2 linked regions of the Homo sapiens genome follow. The protein of the gene in region 1 interacts with the protein of each later gene in a pairwise test. Each region holds a gene or a part of one and is shown on either strand. Other genes may lie near its edges.

Evidence for each region. Proteins that work in one complex are often made in the same cells at the same time.
Region 2: the proteins of TSN (region 1) and ZBTB18 interact in a two-hybrid assay, tested with the Homo sapiens proteins (one study listed by BioGRID).

The regions. Positions count from the first base shown.
Region 1 is NC_000002.12:121,765,651-121,768,353, forward strand, and holds the end of TSN (translin), read left to right. Parts: 3' UTR 1-2,203; downstream 2,204-2,703. UniProt on the Homo sapiens protein: DNA-binding protein that specifically recognizes consensus sequences at the breakpoint junctions in chromosomal translocations, mostly involving immunoglobulin (Ig)/T-cell receptor gene segments.
Region 2 is NC_000001.11:244,046,434-244,054,282, forward strand, and holds the start of ZBTB18 (zinc finger and BTB domain-containing protein 18), read left to right. Parts: upstream 1-4,849; 5' UTR 4,850-4,998; coding exon 4,999-5,011; intron 5,012-6,666; exon of another isoform or gene 6,667-6,767; intron 6,768-7,061; exon of another isoform or gene 7,062-7,354; coding exon 7,355-7,849.

The sequences.
Region 1 (2,703 bases):
TTTCTTGCTTACCTTGACTGTTGATGTACTGATTGAGAAGTTCATTGTCTCGTTTGTGATTCTTCCAGATGTGATGCTTGATATTTTCTATATGCGAGTTAGCCATCCACACCCAGGCATAGCCTGGATACAGTATAAAAATAGATAATTAAAAAGATGGTTGCCAAGCAAGGAAAACTTATTTTATATTTTCCCTTCCTTATTTTAAGCATTGTGAGTAAATCAGATGTTGAATTCTTTTGCCAAGGGAATTATAGCTGCAGGTTCTCTCTCACTGCCATCAAACTGTAAAAGATTAAACTGCGAAGTCAAGCTCAACAGATTATTTTGGAAAGTTTTTGTATTAAGGGATTTAGTAACATCATTTTGTTTTCCACCAGGCAGGGAGTAGGGCTTAGTGTTTTAAAACACCTCTGCTTTCTGATGTTGCCTTAATATTCTGCTATTGCAGCAATTAAAAATTGTCTTCATGTACATTTGGAACTAACACGTGATGTGATATATTCCTAAACTATGAAACCTTTTTCCTAGTAGTCAGCTAGATCATTTGTTCTGGGAGTATAAAGCCACCCACGTAAGTTAATAAGCAAAATCCTGACTATTATGTTGTTAGAGAAAAATGCTTTGCTTTGTCTGGAAGAAAGATAAAATAGTGAATTATAAATAAGTCAGGCCGGGCGTGGTGGCTCACACCTGTAATCCCAGCACACTGGGAGGCCGAGGCAGGGGGACTGCTTGAGCTCAGGAGTTCGAGACCAGCCTGGGCAACAAAGTGAGACTCCATCTCTATATAAAAACAAAAACCACGAAAGCACACACAAAATAAATCAGTGGGATTTGGTAATGTGTTTTAGAGTAAGAAATTTCAGGTTGTTGGTGACTATCCCAACAGTCATGTTTTAAATGTACAGTTTGGGGCAAGTCATGTAAATACTGTTGGTGGTCTTCCCCACACGCCCCAATTTTCAGGTAGTACTAAGAGTATGTGCCAGGAAACTCTTGCTATTGAATTGAGATGATTAAAATGGTGACTTAATCCGTAGTTATTTTGCACCCACTGAAAGGAAAGTGCTTTCCAGAATAATATGAAGTATCTAAAAGTGTCACCTTTTCTTGCCTGATCAACAATTTGGGCTTCCTGTTTGTACAAGGGGCCATTTGGCATACCTTTCACAGCTTTTATCAGGCCAAGTTAAAGGCTGACTACATTTTTTCATCATGAGGAAAGCAGTTGAAATGAGGCATGAGTTACTGTGCATTGGGATTTTAGAACAATTTTCTTGTGACAGCTCTTTTTGTGAAGTTAGGTTCTTAAAAGTGCCCATGATGGTCACTTAAAATGTGCAGTAATAGCACTGCCAGGATCAAGCATGAAAGGCTTTTAAATTAGATCATCCCACAGACAATACGTTTGATAATAGTTTTTTCTTTTAACCTCTTTAAGTATTGATTCTGCTTGAGAATATTGAAGTACTTGCCAGAAGTTGTGGATTTCAGTTTTAACAAATGCTATTAAAGTGGAGAAGCACACTCTGGTCTTGGAATTCCATTTGAGGATTTAGAAGTGTCATGTTTATAACTATTCAGTTGTGTTTGTTGCTGGCTTGTTGTAAAGCAATAAAATTTTTTTGGTCTTTTTGTAAGTGAGTGTGCTGCTGTAAGAAATCTCCCATGTGCATAACAAATTCTGAATATTTTTTGAGGCTAAAGAAGACCGGGGTGACAAGCAGATACTGCTGTGTAATGGTTACACTAACCAAAAGACACCAGCCACTCAGAGTTCTATACTGTAAAGCGCAGATAACATTTGTGTGTTATACCTTGATTGGGGAATTAAAAGTCATTTAACTGAAGATGTTGAGAAACCTGGGCTCTGGTTTTAGTATACCGGAATTACTTTTTTCCAATTTTAGAAAATCAAGCAGGTTAGAGAAAATAGAGATGAATTAGGGGACACTGTCTTATGGATTCATTTATAAGAAGAGAACCAGCCATATACACTTGGGGAGATTTGCCACATCTTAAACTTGAATAATAGTATGAGTAATGCTTAAGGGAGTTTAATAGAGAAGGAAAGCTTTGGCAGTGTTTTGAGAACTTAAGTGGCTAAAGAGATGAGACAAACATGCAGGTCGCTACTGGCATAGTTTCATAATTGTGTACTCGGAAATTAAAGTTTGCTTGTTTCTTGGTCTGGATTAAACTGTTTGTCCTCCTTTTCAGATAGAGCATCACAGTCAGGGCTGACACCAAAATAAGACTTTCCCTGAGCCTGAAATAATTTTTTTTTTTTTTTAAGTATCTACTGTAATAAGCATCAAACAAGCAGAAATAAACAATGTCCCTTCCCCTGGACAACAACAACAGCAATAACAAACATTTAAAGGCGGTAAAATTGCCAGGACTGGTGGGTTGGTTGAGTGGGCTGGGTGCGGGTAGTAGGACGAGATGGGACGGGACGGGGAGGAATCTAGCATCGCTGCCAGGTTTCTGGCTCAGGTTTGGTGCCATTCACTGAGGTGAGGAGTGTAGGAAGATCGCATGTCTGGAGGGGGCTGGGCAGCTGATGCATTTGCTTTTGGATGTGTTGGATTTATGACACTGGAGCGGCAGGTGGATAAATCAAAAGTGGGTAAGATCTCCCTGGAGAACGTGTAGAATGAGAAGAGTCACAAGCTGGGGACAAATTCTTGGTTAACAGCA
Region 2 (7,849 bases), on another chromosome or scaffold:
TCAGTTCCCAAAATGGATTCTAGTAATGACTGTAAGGGAAACACAATACACACACACACACATACACACACAGGTTACAATTTTTGATGTATCAATGTCTCCTCCATATCTTTGGGGCTGTTACTCTACTTGCAGGTACATTCTATAAAACATTTTGTTAGAGCTATGCCTTGGCTTTAGATGCAGTACAGCTGAGTTTCTAAGCTTTTTGTAGATAATCCGAGTGTACTAATATTTTCATGAATTAATATCCTGACACTATCAATTACTTTCTGTCTACTCATGTAGAGATCTGTCACTCTCCTTAATTTTAACTTTTAGTAGATGAGAAACAGCTTTGATAACGCAAACATTTCTTTTTCCCTGAATTAGTTGGTGAAACATATACTTTTCACATCTCATTTTGTGTGCCTGTATATTTCATTCGTGAATAACATTTATTCCTTACCTTGAAACAGGTCAGACTGAAATTGGGCCTTCTACCACTAGACTGAAAAGACCTAGAATTCATCGACAGCACAGATACAACAAAAGCCTTCATGGAATACAAAAACTCCAATTTTCATAGGATATCCTTGACCTCAGTGATGAATCATGAGGGCGTAGAGGGTTGAGAAAAAAGTAGGCACATCACTACTGTTTCTAACCAGATATCTCGAAGCTATTTCAGTTCCAGGAATTCTGTCTGCTCCTGTTTTTACTTCATTAGCAATTCAACATGTCTGATTTGCCCACACAATACTTTCCAGCTACTTTACCCATTTGACCTGGAACAAAGTGAAAGCACATTTTGCCCAGTTGAAAGGTCTCCTGGCAGGTTGGTTAGCAACAGGCTTGCCAGTCTGGGTTCTGTTAGCAAAGAATAAACACATTTCATTAGACAATGACTAGTGGACTGACTTCCTCACTATGAAGTTGTTTTTTTTTTTCTATTTTATTTTCTTCAGCCATTCCCCCTCCCCCACCACTTGTTATTCAACTTTTTACTTGTAATTCTTGCCTCGATACGATTTCCAATTTCTTGACGGCAGACATTTCCACGTCTTTGTGGCTGTGATTAACGCAGTCTAATTGCCAAGAACAGGTACCGAGTAAAAGTTTATTTGAAGGAAAGAAAAGCGACACAGCAGTCTTACATCGTCCCTCGGTAGTTTAAAGTTGTGGCTAGATACGTATCAATTAAGGAATCAAGCTGAGGCATCTGCAAGTACCAATTTTACTGTAATGCTCTAAAATTTGGTCACTTGGGGAAGTCTTTACTTGTAACAGTGTAAGTACACAAGGGACAGGAGGGTTTTGCGAGAAAGGCGGGCGCTCTGCCCTGTTCTGCCCGTGACATGATGACGTAAGAACGACTCCCAGAAACTGCCTGAGTCGCCTGCGTCCCCAGCTCCCCGATGTGCACCTGGGCGCGGGACGCCGCAGGACGGAGCGAGAGCGCTCCTCGGTCCCGCTCCCCTGCGCACGGGCCGGCGAGGACCCGGGCGTCTTCACCCCCACAGGAAGGAGCAGAGAGAGCCACCCGAAGTCGGCCTCGAGTCATCCGTGTCCCCGGGTGCCCTGCCTCTCCAGGATACCTGCGTAACTCGCAGCAGCCAAGCCCCACTACGTTCAAAAGTGTGTTTGTGGTTGTCACAGTGCACACCGAAAAGCTCGCTCCGCACCCGCAGAGTGCGCGGGGCCTCTGAGCCTGGAAACAAGCCCCTCCCAGCGCAGCTGTCGCCGCCGCCTGCGGGCTCCTTTCACTTTCTCACGGCCAAGTCACCCAGAGGGGCGCCGCTGCTGCCACCGCCGCTGCGCCCGAGGACTCCGCCCCGCGCCGCTTCGCTCCGGATCCCCGCCCGCCCGAGCCCCGCCCACCCCAACAGTTGCTGCCTGCGATTGGAACGCGCGGGAGGGCAGCTACGGCTCGCCACCCCCATTGGCTGGGCCCCCTTGTCAGTCCGACGACTGCCCACCACCCCCTCCGCCTTCCCGAAGAGCCGCCTTCCCATTGGAGGAGTCTGAGGGCTGGGGGCGGGCGGGGAGCGCCGGTCCAGCCGCTTTCGGTCAATCGCAGAAGCCCAACGCCCGGAGGGAGGGAGGCAGGGGAAGGAGAGGGGCGGACTGAGGGTGGGGGGAACATCTGGCCGGCGCCGCCGCGTGCGTGCGTGGTGCGTCCTCCCGCCCCCTCCCCTCCCCCTCCCCCGCGCCCGCCCCCCCCCCGCCCCCGCCCCCCCACCCGGCCCGGCGGCTCCGCGCTCGCTCCCTCGCTCGCTCCCTCGCTGTGTCTGGCAGGCTGCGGCCGCCGCTGGGCTGCTGCCATGGGGAGCCGTTGAGAGTGGGGCCCTCTTCGCTCCGCCGCGCTCCTCCGGCTGCCAGCGGGGGTGGGCGGGAGGGAGGGGCGGGGGGGAGCGGGCGACGGAGCCGGGATTGGGGGGTGGGGGGGCCGGGAGGGAGGGGGGCAAGAGCCGGAGGAAGCCCACCAAGTCCGGCGGCGGCGGCGGCGGCCGGGAGGAGGAGGAGGAGGAGGCGGAGGACGCGGCGGCGGCGGGGACGCGGTGACTTAGGGCCGCTCCGTGTGAGTCCCGGCGCCGGCCCCTGGCCCCTGACCTGGCGCCCCCTCCGCGCCCCGGCACCCCGGCGGGCGGGGGGCGCCAGCTGTGCGGCCCCGGCCGGCTGGGCGGCGCGGGCGGAGGGCGGGCCGGGTCGGGGGCGCCCCCGCGAGTGGAGTTAGTTTGTGTGGTTGGAGCTGTTGGGGCGGCGGGGGGCGGCGCAGCTGCGGGAGGCCCGGGCGCGGGGACGGGGCCGCTGCAGCTGCGGGGTCGGGCGGGGTGCGGGTTCCCGGCTCCGCGCCGCGCCCCCGCGGGCCGGTGCAGCTGCGGCGCGGGGCGGGCTCCCGGCCGGTGCAGCTGCGGTGGCGCCTCTCGGGTGCGGAGGGCGGCGGGCTGGGGGAGGGGGCTTGGGAGCAGCCGCAGCTGCAGTGGCGCCCGGGACGGCCGCGGCTCCGGGGACCGGTGCAGCTGCAGTGGCGCCCGGGGGAGGGGGCCGGCGGGGGAGGGGGCCCTCCCGGGCTGGTGCAGTTGCCCGGAGGCCCCGGGGGCTCGCGCGTCGCGGCATCGGGGAAGCGGTAGCAACCACTCTCCTCCCGCTGGCTGCTTCTTACGACTTTTCTTTTGTTGTTGCCGTGACCCGGGTCTGTTTTCTCCTCTGTTGTTTAAGGTGTTTTCCTGCTGCACCGGCTCTGCGCCCTCCACCTCCTTCCCTGTGGTTTTAACCTTCCTCTTTCCCCGTGTGTTTTATGCACGGCGAACTACGTAAAGATTTGCATTGCTTCCCCACTCGGCACCCCCGCCCCCACCTCTCTGAAAAACAAAACCCCAACCTCACAAAACCTCTATGGATCCGCGGTAGCGAGACGTGAAGGGGTTGATTTGTGGAGTGGGAGTTGCTGGCCCATTGCGGTGCCCGGGACTCATTAAACTGTCACTCACCCCCCACCCCACTGGGTAAATGGGGTGATTAATGTCTGATATATTGGAATGGGTCGAGGGCATTTGTGGAGAATAGGTGGTGTGGCTGGGAAGAAATTGATCTCCCGAGGATGTCTCCTGGACTAAGTGTTCATAATTATGTCACTCACCGCGAAGTTGGAGAAAGTTAGGTTTGTGACTTTGGGAAAGCGAGAAGGACAGGACGGAGTCGTCGGGTTTTGTTACTCTTTAACTCTCCGCCACGGCTTTCTAATGGGAACGAAGTGGTTATCACCAGGGCTGGGACGCTGGCGCCTCAGGCCCCAGTTCCTTTTCTACCCCTCGCCCTCCCAAGAGTCTGAGGAGATGTATTTGACATTCAGAGATGTCGCAGCACCCTGCCCGGTACCGGTCAGCCCAGCCCGGGTCGCGTTACAGTTTCATCAGCTATTAGAAAAGACCCACAAACTGGCTGAAAAGTTCTCAAACTTACTAGACCTGGCTTCCCCCCACACAAAGATTTTCTTGTGATCATAAACATTAGAGTGACCCCCCCCCAAAGAAAAAAAAGATTGTTAAGGGACACAGATCAAGGGGAAGGCAAGGTTCTGCTTTTTCTGAGCAGAAAGATCAGATATGCAGGTGCAGCATTCATTTTAAGTGACTGGAGCAGGTTGTATCAGTTTATTAATTGGTCTCGTTGAACTGAAGTACTTTCCAGGATTTCAGAAAGTGCAGTTTCAGCTTGTTGGTACCGAGAATTGAAATTTGCATTGACTGTGGCAGTGTAAGAAATTTTTCTGAGAAGGTAGTTGTAGATAAGTAATTACATAAGAGTGAAATAATAAGGTGAACCAGTCTGAAGTAATAGTTCTGAACAAGTCTGCCAACATTTGAGACATGTATACCATTATCTCAGCAGAAAAAAATAAAAAAGTGCGGTAATAATGTTGAAATGGGACTGGAGATGTCAAATGGGTTGGTTTAAAAATATCCCTAAACTGCTTTAGAAACTAAACGTTGGAGTTGAATAAAAGTGAATCTGGATTTCCTGAATAGCACCGTGGCTTGAGTGTGCTGTCAGTATGTAAGCCAGTCCACCAACTTAAGACAGAAGTGTTGCTATTCCATAAATACAGTAGAACTCCATATGCTGAGTTTTTCAATTTCTTCTGTTAGAAAGTTTGGAAAAAAAGGAAGACTTTGAAGTATTTTGTTTATACTAACAGAAGAGAAAAGTTCTCCTAAGAAAAAGCTGGTGGCAGGAGTGTAGAGGAGTAGCATATGGCATTAAAAGGAGCACAGCTGGAGGTAGCATTTCCATCTGAACATGATGTCAGAGCAGCTGACAGCCTGCCATCCCTCAGCCTTTTATTCTAACACACAGACAGGGAGTTAGTGTGTGCGGATCTGTGGTGGAGAAGGTATCTCATTCCTCTCTAACATCATCTCCACTTTGCATCTGTCTCTCTTAGTCTGCTTTTTTTCCACCGATGTAACAGACCTGGAGCCAGCAGGACTCAGAGGAAAGGACTTAATCAGGTTTATGTGTCCTAAAGGTAGGAGTAGCAAGAGATTAGATTGAGCATATTTCTGTTTTGGTGTTTTGTTTATTTAATTTTAAAAATCACATTACTTTTCTAACCCAGTTTAGGAATAATATATGAAATTGAGTATTAAATGAACATCTTACTGGAGTTGAAAGTCTTGAGCTTGTTTAGTTTTAATTTTTTATCCCTTTTACTTGAGCGAGTAAATAACTTTAATACACAAATATTTCAAGTTTTGAAATGTTAAGAAAGGCTTTAAAATGCTGCTTTTGGAAATCACGTTGGATTAAAATGCTTTTTTGTTGTTCACTGCTATTTAGATTTGATTGGGGTGGTGGTGGTGGGGAAATAGTAAACTGGAATCCAGCATTCAAACTTATATGAGAAGATTATTCTAGTTAAGCAGCTAGATTGTTGTATAATTAATTCCTCTGTGAAACTTTATTCTTCAAAACATTGAGCAGCACTACTGAAACATACAGCTGTAGTGCTGTTGAAACTGCAGGTTTTTAAGAAGAAGAAAAAAAAACCAAACTTTTGTCCCCAGGAGAATAGTTTGACTGGTTTCCTCATTTCTCTTTCAAATATATATTTAAGAGATCTTTTATTTCAGCATAACAATAATTATTTGCAGGAGTTTTTGTGTTAGCGACTAATTTAGAACTTGTAGATTTGAGCTGCCTGAATTGGCCAGACAGCTGTAATCGCACTCCTCTATTCTTAATCTCTTTATCTGGGCAGCAGCTGCCATATGGCCACAGTCAGCTGGATCAGATGTTTATAAGCTTCCTTCTTCGTCCCTCTCTGTCCTCTCAGCCTCCTAATTTGATCACGGCTACCTTGTGAGCTGCCCTCCAATCTTTATTTTTAGCCTTCTCAAGGATTAGGATTGATGTTAGCTGTGGGGCACTTAAAGTGATTGTATTGTAAATCTTAGTTTATTCTAGCAGTGGCATCTTGCAGAATGTGTCTGGGGTTAGGATAAAGTTTTAGTCTGTCTTGGGCAAAGTGTAGAAGAACAAGAAGAAAGGAAGTAATTTCTGAATATTAAATTAAGTGTATCTATTCCCAAAATGCACTTGCTGAGATGGGTGGTGTGGAGGCTTGCTTCTGGTCACAGGAAAGGGGAAGTCGGGTCTTCTTTATTTTTCAGGAGTTTACCCACTGCAGTTGAATTCTGACCCTTTGTACATCTTTGCCTTTCTCCTCCCTCCATTTCACTTTCCCTCATCACAAAACAAGGGCAATGATGAATATTTGCAAGAATAGAAGCTAGTGGGAAAACAGAAATATATCAAATTATATTGAAACAAAGTATTTTCTGTTGGCTGAGGTAAGGCAGAACCAGGAAAAAAAAAAAGGTTCTCTTTTTCTAAAAAGGCTTAAAAAAAAACGTTGAACCTGTAAAGCTTTTGAGTTTTATTTAAGCGCTGTATGCCTTTATTTTTAAAAGTTTGAATTAATTTCAATATGAAACTCATTTTGCCTTGCAACGGATCAAAGTTTAGATGAGAATTTTCGGAGTTCAGTAAAGCCCCTCTGGTTCCTAATATTCTGAAAGTACAGTTTCTACAAAGAAATGTAACTACTTTTTTCTCAGTTCGTTTTGAAAAATCTTTGGATTTGTTCATAGTAAAGATGATCTTTTCCATCTGTTGGTGCAGCTCCTTCTGATCTCGTACATGTGTGCTATACCTGCAAATCTGAAGGCATTAACATCTGTTTTTATACACAGGGCTTTTGTTGTAACACCCTGACTTTAAAAGTAAGTTGTTTGCTAATTTCTGGACTAATTATGCAATTTCATTTTTTTTTCTTGATTCAGCCAAATGTGTGTGTGTGTGTTTAAACTGTGCTTTCTAAGCACAGTCAGGTAGCAAAAGTAATAAAAAGGATGGTTGAACAAGTTTTCTTGTATGTTCCAGGATATGTTTGGGACTTTTCTTTGTTTATTATATGAGTTGTTCCCTTTGAAATTAAAGCTATTTTGTAGGTTTTGTGGGACATAATTTGATAAGTAGAGTTAATTAAATTTCTTCTGGAAGAGATCTAAATTCTTATTCTTAGTGAGAGACTGTAGTTAAAGGAAGGCTTTTAGAACTTGGGTTCAAGGAAGATGGAGATGCGTCGGAAGCTCTTTGGCGGGGGTGAGGAAGTTCAGAAAGTGTGCATTTTCCTTCTGGCATTTAGGTCTTGTCCGTGTGATTTGGTGGTGCTTGGGTCATAAGCCTGATTAAAATTCAGGGACATGTACCACGGCGGCCAAAGCGGAATTAATTTTTTTATATGGGGACTGGAGCGCTGAAAAGTTGTTCCTGACCAGGCTCTAATGAGAAATTCCTCTCTCCCCAGGTTATGAAGACAGTATGGAGTTTCCAGACCATAGTAGACATTTGCTACAGTGTCTGAGCGAGCAGAGACACCAGGGTTTTCTTTGTGACTGCACTGTTCTGGTGGGAGATGCCCAGTTCCGAGCGCACCGAGCTGTACTGGCTTCATGCAGCATGTATTTCCACCTCTTTTACAAGGACCAGCTGGACAAAAGAGACATTGTTCATCTGAACAGCGACATTGTTACAGCCCCCGCTTTCGCTCTCCTGCTTGAATTCATGTATGAAGGGAAACTCCAGTTCAAAGACTTGCCCATTGAAGACGTGCTAGCAGCTGCCAGTTATCTCCACATGTATGACATTGTCAAAGTCTGCAAAAAGAAGCTGAAAGAGAAAGCCACCACGGAGGCAGACAGCACCAAAAAGGAAGAAGATGCTTCAAGTTGTTCGGACAAAGTCGAGAGTCTCTCCGATGGCAGCAGCCACATAGCAGGCGATTTGCCCAGTGATGAAGATG